Linked DNA regions of Homo sapiens. The protein of the gene in region 2 interacts with the protein of the main gene of each other region in a pairwise test. Each region holds a gene or a part of one and is shown on either strand. Other genes may lie near its edges.

Region 1 (4,779 bases), on a different chromosome or scaffold from region 2:
TGTAGATTCACAAGTTTTGCAATGGTAGCACAGGAGGTAAGGTAAAGGGAGGAAACAGCATATTCTTCAGCGGCACAAACCTGCTTCAACCAGAGCAGCTGCTCTTTGATCTATTTTACATGATAGACTTCCATATAAGACTTTATTTGGACAAGGGTACTGCTGCTTTAAAAAACAAAGCAAAAAAAAAAAAAAAACCCAAAAAACTGCTGTAATTGAACAAATTAGTTTCTTGGGGCCCTAGTCTGCAATTTAGTCAACACAGCAGATAATTAAACATCGACTGTACTAAGCACAGCCTAAAATATTCACATCAAAGGGGAAAAAGGAAAAAGACTCAGATCACACTTCCATTTTGAGCCAACAGATAACTGCTTTACTTGAGGGAAAAGGCATGACTGGTTTAGATGGGTAGAGATCTAAATGCTGAATGTCACTCAGTGATGGCACCTCTTTCAAAAGCACAGACAGCTGGAGGATTCCTGGCCTCATTTACCTTCAGCCTGCCCACAATATTATATTTCTCTCTCCACTGCAAACTGTGTGCCAAAGGCCTGAGCCACTGTTATTGCCTCAGCAAGTCCCCCACTGACAGCAAAGACAGATCTCCTGCTGCTGGGTGCCCCCACAGATAAAGTGGCTCTAATAACTAGTGGAGTCATTTGTGATGCACTTTCAATTGGATCAATTTCCTCTCAATTACCCAATCTTTGAAAATCGGATGCAATTTCATAATCAGAATATGGGGCTTTCTCCAGATGAAAAGAACAAGACAAACTAGTTCAACATCATTTTAATGACCTCTTTACCTATCCTTTGGCAGCTATTATGATACAATCCAAAGAAACACTACTACCATAAAAACAATTTTGAGCAGCTCAGTTTAGCAAATTTTGTTTACATCAAAGTAAGGCAGTTGCTCTTTGGCTTGCCATCAGCCCTGCACCTAGAGTAAGATATATTACTTAGTAAACACCAAACCCTCAGGAACCTCATCACAGGTCCTCTCACCCACTTCTGATCTTAAAAACAAGACTAACTTCCTTTTTGTGAACTGTAATTATAAACATAAAACATACAGCAGAAGCTCAGAATAGGGTATTGGTGACTCTAAACCTTGGGGGATGATTCTGTACACATGTATTTGGGAGAAAGATTTGGATTATTATCTTTACATAATAGTGCTTTTGGCTGAATTTTGACCTGGGTAGATATCTACACTCTGAAAGAACACAGTGAGATAAGGAAGCAAAATGGCATAGCGCAGGTTATCCCTCTTATCATCTCCAAAATTCCGTATTTAATTAAAAGACATGAACACCAGAGATGAAGAAACAGTTCTCAATTATTTAATGCTTGATAGAGAAATGGAAAGAAATCCTGAAACCAAATAGTATGTACTGACTTGAGGAAAACACAGAATAACAAACCAATAGTTTTGCTGTTTGTTTTAGTAATGAACATGAAAATGTGTCCACCTCTCCACTTTGTTGGCCCTGGCCTATGTTGTACAATTCCTTAGACACAGGCCAGAAGAGAGAGGTAGTATGAAAAATGATGAGCCCTAGAGACTATCCAAATTTGCTGACTATATCAGCATTTGTTTGCTTATTCCCAGCTTCCTATGCTTTGGCATAATTCCAACCCATATATGCTTCTTTAAAAGGCAAGCAATTTCCAGGCTGAAGTCATCAATACCAACCAACTAGGGTCAATCCATTCTGTCACATCTGCAATTCTCAATCCAAGATGGCACAGATCCTCCAGGCGAGAGGTACTGCTTCCTAAAGGGCTTGTGTATCCCCTTTGGTAGCACTAAATGAATGACTTTCATACTGGTAAAGACGATCAGACTGAGACATAATGTTACGGGAATATGATGTCTTAAATGTCACTGAAAGGTGGAGCAGATCCCACTGAAGCATGCACAGTGAATCCAATCAGAGTTCAAGAGAAAGTGTCACAGATGAAGCACATTATAGTAGGAAGGAAACAATGGATCAAGGGCATCAAAGCCAAATGGGAAAAAATCAAGGATTTAATACAAGGGCAAATTTCAAACATGGCACAAAGGGCTAAAGTGGCTCTCTCTACTAAAGCCTTGGAAGTGCCTAATTGCTAATCAAACTTCAGCTAACACCATCGTGTGTCCTATTTGGGCAGTGCATCTTTTAAAGCTCTAAATTTAGGTGGGAAGCGGGGAGGGGGACATAACAAATAAAAACATTAAAAGATGGAGCTTCTGAAGTTCTAGAACTACCCAGCTGGAATCAGGACATAGGCTGAGTCTATTCTGCATGTGCCACTAACAACCAAGAACTAAGGGAAGGGAAGTTGGCTTGGGAGCAGAAGAAACTGATAATTTCTCATCCCCTATGGGGTGGAATATCTTCTCAGATGGTAGCTGTAGATCTTGATGCAATGATCCCAACAGTCCAAGACCAGCAGCTGCCCCTTAGGAGTTAGGGCTATGCCCACCGGACAGGTAAGTCCCTCTCGAATAAGGACACTATAGCCCCCACCCTTAGGAAAATGGAGAATTTCCTTGCGACTACTGTCAGCCACGATGAGATCACCACGAGCATCCACACACATGCCAGCAATGCAGCGGAAATCCTCATTCTCCGAGAAGAAGTGGCTAATCTGGCGACCCAGCTGCCCATCAGGGCCTACAGAGCCAATGGAAAAGCCACCCTCCAGGTGGTGCTCATTCTGCCGATTCTCCAGATTGAGGCCTAAGCCCTGGGTGAAGTAGACGGTGCCCTCAGCATCACAGGTGACAAATTTGGGCCGCACAGCACTACATAGGCAGCTGTATTTGACCACCCCTGATCCTCGATCAACTGTGAAACACCAAAGCTTTCCACCTTCCACATCGGTTACTACAAACTGGCCAGATGGCAAGGCTGTGATACCCCATGGTTTGCTCAGCTGGCTCCTGTGACAGGCCACGCAGTGGCCATCCAAGGTATATACCTTGAGGGAGTTATCATAGCTGTCAGTCACACCAATCAGCCCCTGGCAGTTCATTGCCACTGAGAGAGGAGTGAGGTTGGGTAGATCTGCCCCAAGGAAGCTTAGCACAAAGCTATCAATGCCACTGGGGCTGCGGCGGATTTCCTTCAAAAAGCCTTTGCGGGTAAAGACTTGTATACGATAGTTACCACGGTCAGCGACTAGTACTTCACCTTGACTGGTCACGTAGAGACTGACTGGAAGATTGAACATTCCTGGAGTGCTGCCTTTGGCCCCCATCTTCTTGAGAAAGAGGCACTGCTGGATATTGGAGGCTGCCTCAGGACCCCGCTGTTTAGCAGGTGAGGCCCTAGGGCTGGCAACCACTTCCTCCGGGCTCATGTCCATCTCTCTAAAAGTAACAGAGGTAGAGGCAGCAGACGCTGTGGCCTCCATGGCCCAGGAATCTTCCACGTTAACTGTCCGGGGCTTCTTAACAGCTTGTCCAATTTGGAGGGGGCCAACATGACCTACCTTAAGGAGCTCCACATCTTGCAGGGTGAGCTCCCGAGGCAAGCTGGCAGTGAGCTCTGGCTCCTCCTCATCAGCTGTCTCCTCCAGTAGTGCTACATCTGCCTGCTTGATCTTGGCCAGGAAGTAGTCACAGCGAGACACAGCCTGCACCTCTGCAATGTTAAGCAGGTAACTCTGCTCCTCTACCACTTGACTATTGGACTTCTCAACTTCAGCCAAAGAGCCTGTGAAGAACTTCCGAGAGCGAGCCAGCTCATCCTGGACCCTGCGCTCCTCATGCCCATACTCCTGGAGAACTGCTTTATACCTTGCCTGAAGGTCCTTGGAGACACCTTCCAAGGCTGCCTTCCGCCGCTGCAGCTCCCCCATAAGTTCCCGCAGACGAGTTAACTTCTCTCCAAAGTCCCGACGCCGCTCCTCAGCTGCTTCTTTGACAGGGAGTGTACAGTGGCCAGGAGGCTGATGGTCTGCCTCCCGGCAGGGCTCACATAACACCAAACCACAGCTCCGGCAGAATTGCCGGGGCAGACGCCGCCCACAGGACCGACACATGAGCAGCCCCACAGCCTCGCTGAGCCCAGCTGTATCAATGATCTTTAGCACTGTCAGATTGTCTGTCAGCTGGGTCAAGCTGGTTATGCGGGTAATCTTGCTGCAAAAGGGACAGCGGACACCATTGATGCTACTGGCCAATAGCTTCTCCAGGCACTGGCGGCAGATGGTATGGCCACAGTGCAGAAGCTTGGGACGCAGCTGCTCTTCTGTGAAGGACTCCATGCAGATGGGGCATTCTAGCACTTCCCGGAGGGCATCCAGGTTCAGGTGAGAAGCTGCTGCTGCAGCCATTGCTCTTCCTTTGAAGGGTATTGCTAGCACAGCTCAGAACTGAACAGCACAGTATTCATGCCCTAGAGGGTCAAATTCCTGCTAAAGAGAAAAAGAAACCATTATTCATTTTCCTCTGACTATATAAATAAATTCACTCAAGAAACATTTAGAGAATAGCTATGACCAGTCATTCAGTCATTCCCTTACTTAACAACTATTTTATTGAGGTCTATTATATGTCACGTGAGGGTGACAGATAGGGAAACAAACCAGACAAAACACTGCATAGTGGGAAATAATTCAGATTCTGTAGTCTCAGACACTTACTTAGCTGCATGACCATAAGGAATTAACTCAAACTTCCAAAAGCTCTTTCCCCATCACTCATCTGTAAAATAGAAGTAATAATGGTGTCTGCCTTATATGGTTATTATAAGGGCTAAGTAACAAGATAAATATGAT
Region 2 (7,284 bases):
CCACGCCTAGCTAATTTTTGTATTTTTGGTAGAGATGGGGTTTCACCGTGTTGGCCAGGGTGGTCTGAACTACTGACCTCAGATGATCCACCCGCCTCGGCCTCCCAAAGTGCTGGGATTACAGGCATAAGCCACTGTGTCCAGCCCCAATACATTTTTTTGAGACAGGTCTCGCTCTATCACCCAGGCTAGAATGCAGTGGTGCGATCTCAGCTCACTGCAGCCTTGACCTCCCAAGTTCAAGCAATCCTCCCACCTCAGCCTCTTGAGTAGCTGGGATTACAGGTGCATGCCACTATGCTTGGCTAATTTTTTAATTTTTTGTACAGATGAGATCTCACTATATTGCCCAGGATAGTCTTGAACTCCTGGGCTCAAGCGAACCTCCTGCCTCGTCCTCCCAAAGTGTTGGGATTACAGGTGTAATTCACCACACCCAGACAATACAATTTTTTTAATTTAAAAAAAAACACCTGTTGAATAAATGAAATGAATCGCCATGTTCCAGTTGAACTTTATGTTGCTTTGTGAAAGCTGGGAGGACGAGGCCCTCTCGCATGGATAGATGTGTGCTGTCTTCCCAGAAAATGAGTGTGGGCCTGATGGGGCCAGGCTCACGGCACGCCAAGGTTGCTCACACCCTGCCCACTTCCCTCCTTATCTGCCACCACTCATGCACTAAAAATGGACCGTCACACAGCCTGATGGGACAACATGACCTCTGACAGCTACAAAGAAGCTGTGGCAGCAGAGTCCAAGGTGACAGGGAGAGTAGCCTATGGGGTGGGAGCAGCCCACAGAGCCAACCCCACCGTGTATGGGGGTTTTTTCACCCTGTGTTTTGCAGACTGCGTAGCTCAGCCTCGCAAGTGTGTATGCCATTTAAAAATCGAGGAGGGAGGCCGGGCGCAGTGGCTCACGCCTGTAATCCCAGCACTTTGGAAGGCCGAGGCAGGCGGATCATGAGGTCAAGAGATCGAGATCATCCTGGCCAACATTGTGAAACCCCGTCTCTACTAAAAATACAAAAATTAGCTGGGCATGGTGGCGGGCACCTGTAGTCCCAGCTACTCGGGAGGCTGTGGCAGGAGAATCACTTGAACCTGGGAGGCAGATGTTGCAGTGAGCCGAGATTGCGCCACTGCACTCCAGCTTGGCGACAGAGCAAGACTCTGTCTCAAAAAAAAAAAAAAAAAAAAAAAATGAATATGCAACAGAGACCATATGTGGCTCACAGGCCTAAAATCCTGACCCACATAAGCTTGAGGTAATCAACCCACTTGCAGAGTAAAACCATTTGGGCTTCATCTGTCCTTATAGGTTAATGGACTCTAAGCTTCAGCTGCAGGAAACATAAAAAGTGAAATATTTATGAGCCTCTGCAGCCCTCGGGGAATGCCTGTTGTCCCAGGTACTGTCTAAACAGTCTGCTGGGGCTATTTCTGTACTGAGAGAACTGGCCGGCCAAAATGTCAGGACCCAGACAGACCTTCCAACCAGGAACCAGCTTTCTTCTTCTCACTGGAAACGCAAGGCCAACAGGAACAGCCTGACAAAAGCGGCTCTTGGGATCACATGACTTTGTTGTTTGCAAAACCCTAAGACGCTTGCAGTGAGATTTTGTAGAGGGTCTTGGATCTTGCAAATGTTCCTCTCTGGGCAGCCCACCCCTCACTGTCATGACCCCTGCCCTCCACTCCCCGCCACTCAACGCTGAGCAGCTAGCCTGGGGCTCAGAGGGTGGGCACAGCAGCAGCGGGACAGCCATGGCTGGGCCCTGGAACTCCACTGAGAACCTGCACTAGCCTCAGGACAGTGCTCCGGCCCTGCCTCCCTGCTGGTCACTACCAGTTCTGCCTGTCTGACTACGGAAAGGCAGGTGAGCAAGAAGCCGTAGCAAAGCCTGCAGGTGCCACAGTGTTCGGAGCCGACAGTAGGGCGCTCCTGATGGTGACCCGGCAGCAGCCTCAGCCCAGCCTCTGCTGTGGGGAAGTCCAGGCTTCCTGCATGGTCACTGGGGTTGGATGCTGAATGTGCTGTGAGGGGCCTAATTGTTCCCCGAGTGCTGAGGGCATTAACAGGATTTAGTTCCCCCTCGGTTGGCAGGGCATCACCGAGGCACTGATGCGGTCACAGCCTCAGCTGCAGAGAGAAGAGCACGCTGCCATGGCTCGAGGAGAGGGCTCGGGAAACTGGGCTGTATGTTTAGAAAGTGGCCTGCGGGAGGTGCTGGGGGTGAACGGCAGACCAAGAAAATAAGGAAACCTTTCCACACACACAGGCACACACATGCACAGACACACACACAGGCACATACACACAAACACAGGCAAAGACACACACAGGCACAGACACACACAAACACAGGCACACACACGGGCACAGACATACACAGGCACACACAGGCACAGACACACACACAGGCACACAGACACACACAAACACAAACGGGCACACACATGCACAGACACAAACAGAGGCACACACACAGGCACACGCAGGCACAGACATACACAGGCACAGACACACACATGCACAGACACTCAGAGACCCACACAGACACAGGCACACAGAGGCAGGCACACACACACACAGGTACACACACAGGCACACACACAGGCACACATACACAAACCCCACACACACACAGGTGCACACAGGCACACACGCATATGCACATACACACACAGGTGCACGCAGCCACACGTGCACAGGCACACATGTACATACACACAGGTGCACACAGGCACACATGCACATACACATACAAAGGCGCACACCTAGGTGCACACACAACTCTGGCTGGCCATGAGCCCACTGAGCTAGCTCCGCAGGGAGCCGGTGCCAGGGGCTGAGGCCATGGGCGCAGGGCCCAGAGGCCAGGCTGAGCACAGTCCTTGCCCTTGGCCCGCCTTGTCTGTTTCCTAAGCCTCTTACTTCTTTACAATCACCAAAAGGCCTAGAAGCTTCCCTCTTCACAACTCCTAGACTAGGGCCTGCCACACGACAGGTATTTGATAAACACGTCTTGACTAAACTGACCGCCAAGAGCCACAGCCGAAGCCCCTTACTCCTACAATCACCCACGTCCCTTTCCTGGTGAGCACGGAGGACTAGTTCCTGGATTCGACTTTTAGGGGCCTCTTAGTTCCCTACCAGCAAGAATGAGGACTATGACCCACTTCAAGTCAGAGTGTGGCGTCTGTAGCAAGCACGGATCGGTCAGCCTGAAACACGGGACTTGTCCTGCCTCTGCACGCCTGGCTGGGCTGCCTGGGAGAATTTCCTCCTCTGGTCGGCTCATCTGCAAAGGAGGGGCTGGGCTGCTGGACCCCCAGTGCCTTCTGCTCTCATGTCAGGCACTGCGATTAGGCTTGCCACATGCTCCCTACGGGTGCGCCAAGAGTCACCACCGTTTTACAAACAGAAAAGCTGCTGTTTGGTGGAAAAGTAATTTTGATGGCACAGTAGGCTGGAAAAGGGCAGGGTCAGCCCGGGGACCTGACCTTCAGGACAGTGGCTGGGTGTCGAAGCAAGAGCCTAGGTTCAGAGCTGTAGGCAACACACAGTGAGAATCTCAACTAAGGGAGGAGAGGAGCAAAGGGATTCAGGACACACGGCATCTCCTTTAACCCACTCCGACCCATGGGATGAGTATTACAGTTTCTGTCTCCCTGGTGAAGCAGCAGCCTTAGAGAGGTGGTAACCAGCCATGGGACCCACACTGGAGGCAAAGCCCGGATTGGAACCCAGATCTGCACCCAGGGACCCTGCTCCTTCACTCCCAGGGCTGCCTCCTCATTCATAAGGCTTTGCTGGCCTAGTGCCCATGATGAGCTCCCAACACCGACTATGAGCCCCTACCATGAGCCGCAGGCCCTCACCACGAGCCCCTGGCACCATCCCACAGGACCACATGACTCACGAACCATCCCTGCTGCAGCTGAGTGGAGGGTGTGGAAGTCCCTAGCTGAGTTTCAGAACAGAACAGACCAGACCCCGATAAATGTCAGCTTCCCATCTGCCCTCCAAGGCATGGTGACGTCTCAGGTCTCAGTTCCCACATCAGTGTCCATTCATCACAGCACCTCTCCCCATGGAGAGAACTCGCTTCTCCATTTCCTTCCGCAAACCATGTGACTGCAATGGCAGGAGTTTGTCATAGGGCCCAAGACAAAGCTGAACCAGCCTGTTCCATCCTGCCAAACTCGGGAATCTGGAGAGTCTGAGTTCCAGGCTGGGAATTCCGAGGAAGAAGGGCTGGGATACGTGGCTGCCGAGGTGTCACCGAGCCCACCGCCACATCAACTTCTGCCCCTGCAGGGCACAGACCTGTCTGCCCAGGAGCTGCCTGGGCACAGAAGCTACCGCCTTTGCTTCTGAGCCTCTATCCTGAAACCTGGAGGTAGAAGGCACCATAATTCCTCATGAGCAGAGACCCCTGCCTGCCTTAGGTTTCAGAGTCCTGCCCCTCTCCTAAGTCCCCACTAAAATGGTGATTTGACACAGCGCTTAGAACAGGCTCTGAGTCAAAGGCCTTGGTGCAAAGCCTTGGTCCCGCCACTTCCTCATGCAGCCGGGAGCAGAAGCTCAGCTGTTCCCCAAAGCTGGCACAAGGAGCCACAGCTGGAAACAACAGGTAGTCAGCACTCCATGTTCCAAACATTTGGGGCCAGACAGACACTGCATACAGACGGCCCGGAGAGAGTTAGCAGAACCAGTCCTACCACAGCCGCCTCCCCATGTTCCCAGGCTGAACTGGAAGGTGGAGAGTGGAGATGGAGAAAAAGAGTTAACAGCCTGCTACCAGCAGGGCACCTCACCCCAGGTCAGAAAGGAGAAAGACACATGGACACTGCTCACAGGGATTGGGCAGGAAGGGGGCCCGGGCAGATGCTTGCTGAGCTGGGACTGTTTGCAGGTGGAGTCCCGGTGGAGCCTGACCTGTGCCCTGGTGATCTGGAGGCACCAGGCACTTGGAGGGTGATGCTTGCTTCCACCTGGGATTTTTACAGGTGGGAGGGCCCCTAGGCACGCAAGGAGTGAAAAGCAGCCAGGTGCAGGGTCCTGAAGACGCTAGTTAGGCATCCAGCCTGTCACCCATGTGGCCAAGTGGGAGTGGAGGGGCCTCAGTGATCCCATGGCTTTCTAAGAAAAAGCCCTAAAAGGGCTTTTCGAAAAGGGGCCTAAAGCCATGTGGCTGCCCCCTGAAGAAGGAATTGGGATGGAAGGGAGACCAAAGATGGGGCTAGGAAGAAGCTGAAGTCCATCATGTCAACATGGCCACGTGGCAGTTACCCACAGAGGCGGCGCCAGAGCAAGACCAGAGGCCGACACGCTGGCAGTCACGAGAGAGTGTGCCCCTCCCCTGGGCTGCCTGGGAAGATGGAAGGGGAGAGGCTGAGAGCATGGGCACACCCTCTGCACCAAGCCCTGCAGCTCGAAGCCTGGCTGGCCTTGGACAGTGTGGGAGAAGCTTTAAATCAGACGTAAAGATTTAATAAAGGAGTATGGGCCAGGCACAGTGGCTCACGCCTGCAATCCCAGCACTTTGGGAAGCCGAGGTAGGCAGATCACCTGAGGTCAGGAGTTCAAAACCAGCCTGGCCAAGATGGTGAAACCCTGTCTCTACTGAAAATACAGAAATTAGCCAGGCGTGGTGGCGCACACCTGTAATCTCAGCTACTAAGGAGGCCGAGGCAGGAGAACTGCTTGAATCTGGGAGGCGGAGGTTGCAGTGAGCCAAGATCACACTACTGCGGCCTGGGTGACAGAGCCAGACTCCAAAATAATAATAATTACCGAGTATGACTAGAAAGCCATAGGATCTGCCTGAGAGGTCATTAGGGGTGGAAAGAGACTTAACATGGCAGAATTTAAAAGCAGTGATTTAGGGGTAAGTTAATCAAATTGAGCTTGCTCATGATCGCATTACCCTCAGATGTGTACCCAAGGGCAGCCGGGGCTGCGTACTGCAGCATCGTGTGCATTGCACGGAGGCTCGGACGGGGCAGTGTGGGCAAGTGTTCTCACCCCTCCGAGCCTCAGTTGGGGGGTAACAGTACCCTCTGGGTCACCAGGGAGGGTGAGATGAGTAAGGCCCAGGTACAGGGACCCTGCAAAAGCACAAAGGACTGACAACAACAGAAAAAAGCTTCCTCCCCATCTCGGACCTCTCCTTCCAGTTCATTCCCAATTCCCAAACTGCCCCCACGACTTCCTTCCCACCATCCTCTCTTCCTCCCCACCCAGCTTCAGCCTCCAGACACCTGCTTCTTCTCAGAGGACTCATGTCTCATTCAAGTCTCCTGACGCTTCAATAACCATTCCCTTCAGTGCCGCAAATCGTGCCTTAACTGTGCTGTATGTATACTTTGATTCTCTGCAACCTGATTTTGCGCTCCAGGAGAACACGAGGTTAGATTTAGAGTTGGGTATGTTTTCCCATTGTTAAGAGGTTTCATGGCCAGGCGCGGTGGCTCACACCTGTAATCACGGCACTTTGGGAGGCCGAGGTGGGCAGATTACTTGAGGTCAGGAGTTTGAGACCAACCTGGCCAACATGGCAAAACTCCATCTCTACTAAAAATACAAAAATTAGCCAGGTGCAGTGGCAGGTGCCTGTAATCCCAGATACTCGGGAGGCTGAGGCAGGAGAATCGCTTGAATCCAGGAGGCAGAGGTTGCAGTGAACCCAGATCACCACAAAGCAAGGCTCTATCTCAAAAAATAAAATAAAAAGAGGTTTCACATACTGTACATAAAAGACAAACCTCACACTCAGACAGCACAGATGTGTGTTGAATCCCAGCTCCACCATGCACTGACAGTGTGACCTTGAGCAAGTCATCTACGACCTCTCAGCCTCAGTTTCCTCCTCTGGAAAATGGGGACAATACCGGTACTTTCTTCAGAGAGTTCTGGTAAAAATAAATATAACCAATTGCTTAGAAGTGTGCTTTCTTGGCCGGGTGCGGTGGCTCACACCTGTAATCCCAGCACTTTGGGAGGCCGAGGTGGACAGATCACAAGGTCAAGAGATCAAGACCATCCTGGTCAACATGGTGAAACACTGTCTCTACTAAAAATACAAAACTTAGCTGGGCATAGTGGCACACACCTGTAGTCCCAGCTACTTAGGAGGCTGAGGTAGGAGAATCATTTGAACCCGGGAGGCGGAGGCTGCAGTGAGCCGAGATCGAAAGTATGCTTTCTTAAACATACTTCTTAATTGTTAGCTGTCAGCCCCTTCTCCAAAAATCTCATTTACTTGGTCTGAGATGG

The links.
Region 1: the proteins of GPR137B (region 2) and TRIM32 interact in binary tests that used the Homo sapiens proteins (3 or more experiments, as listed by UniProt).

The regions. Positions count from the first base shown.
Region 1 is NC_000009.12:116,697,299-116,702,077, reverse strand, and holds the end of TRIM32 (E3 ubiquitin-protein ligase TRIM32), read right to left. Parts: intron 4,706-4,779; exon of another isoform or gene 4,645-4,705; intron 4,417-4,644; 5' UTR 4,336-4,416; coding exon 2,374-4,335; 3' UTR 779-2,373; downstream 1-778. UniProt on the Homo sapiens protein: E3 ubiquitin ligase that plays a role in various biological processes including neural stem cell differentiation, innate immunity, inflammatory resonse and autophagy.
Region 2 is NC_000001.11:236,145,338-236,152,621, reverse strand, and holds part of GPR137B (integral membrane protein GPR137B), read right to left. Parts: intron 1-7,284. UniProt on the Homo sapiens protein: Lysosomal integral membrane protein that regulates the localization and activity of mTORC1, a signaling complex promoting cell growth in response to growth factors, energy levels, and amino acids.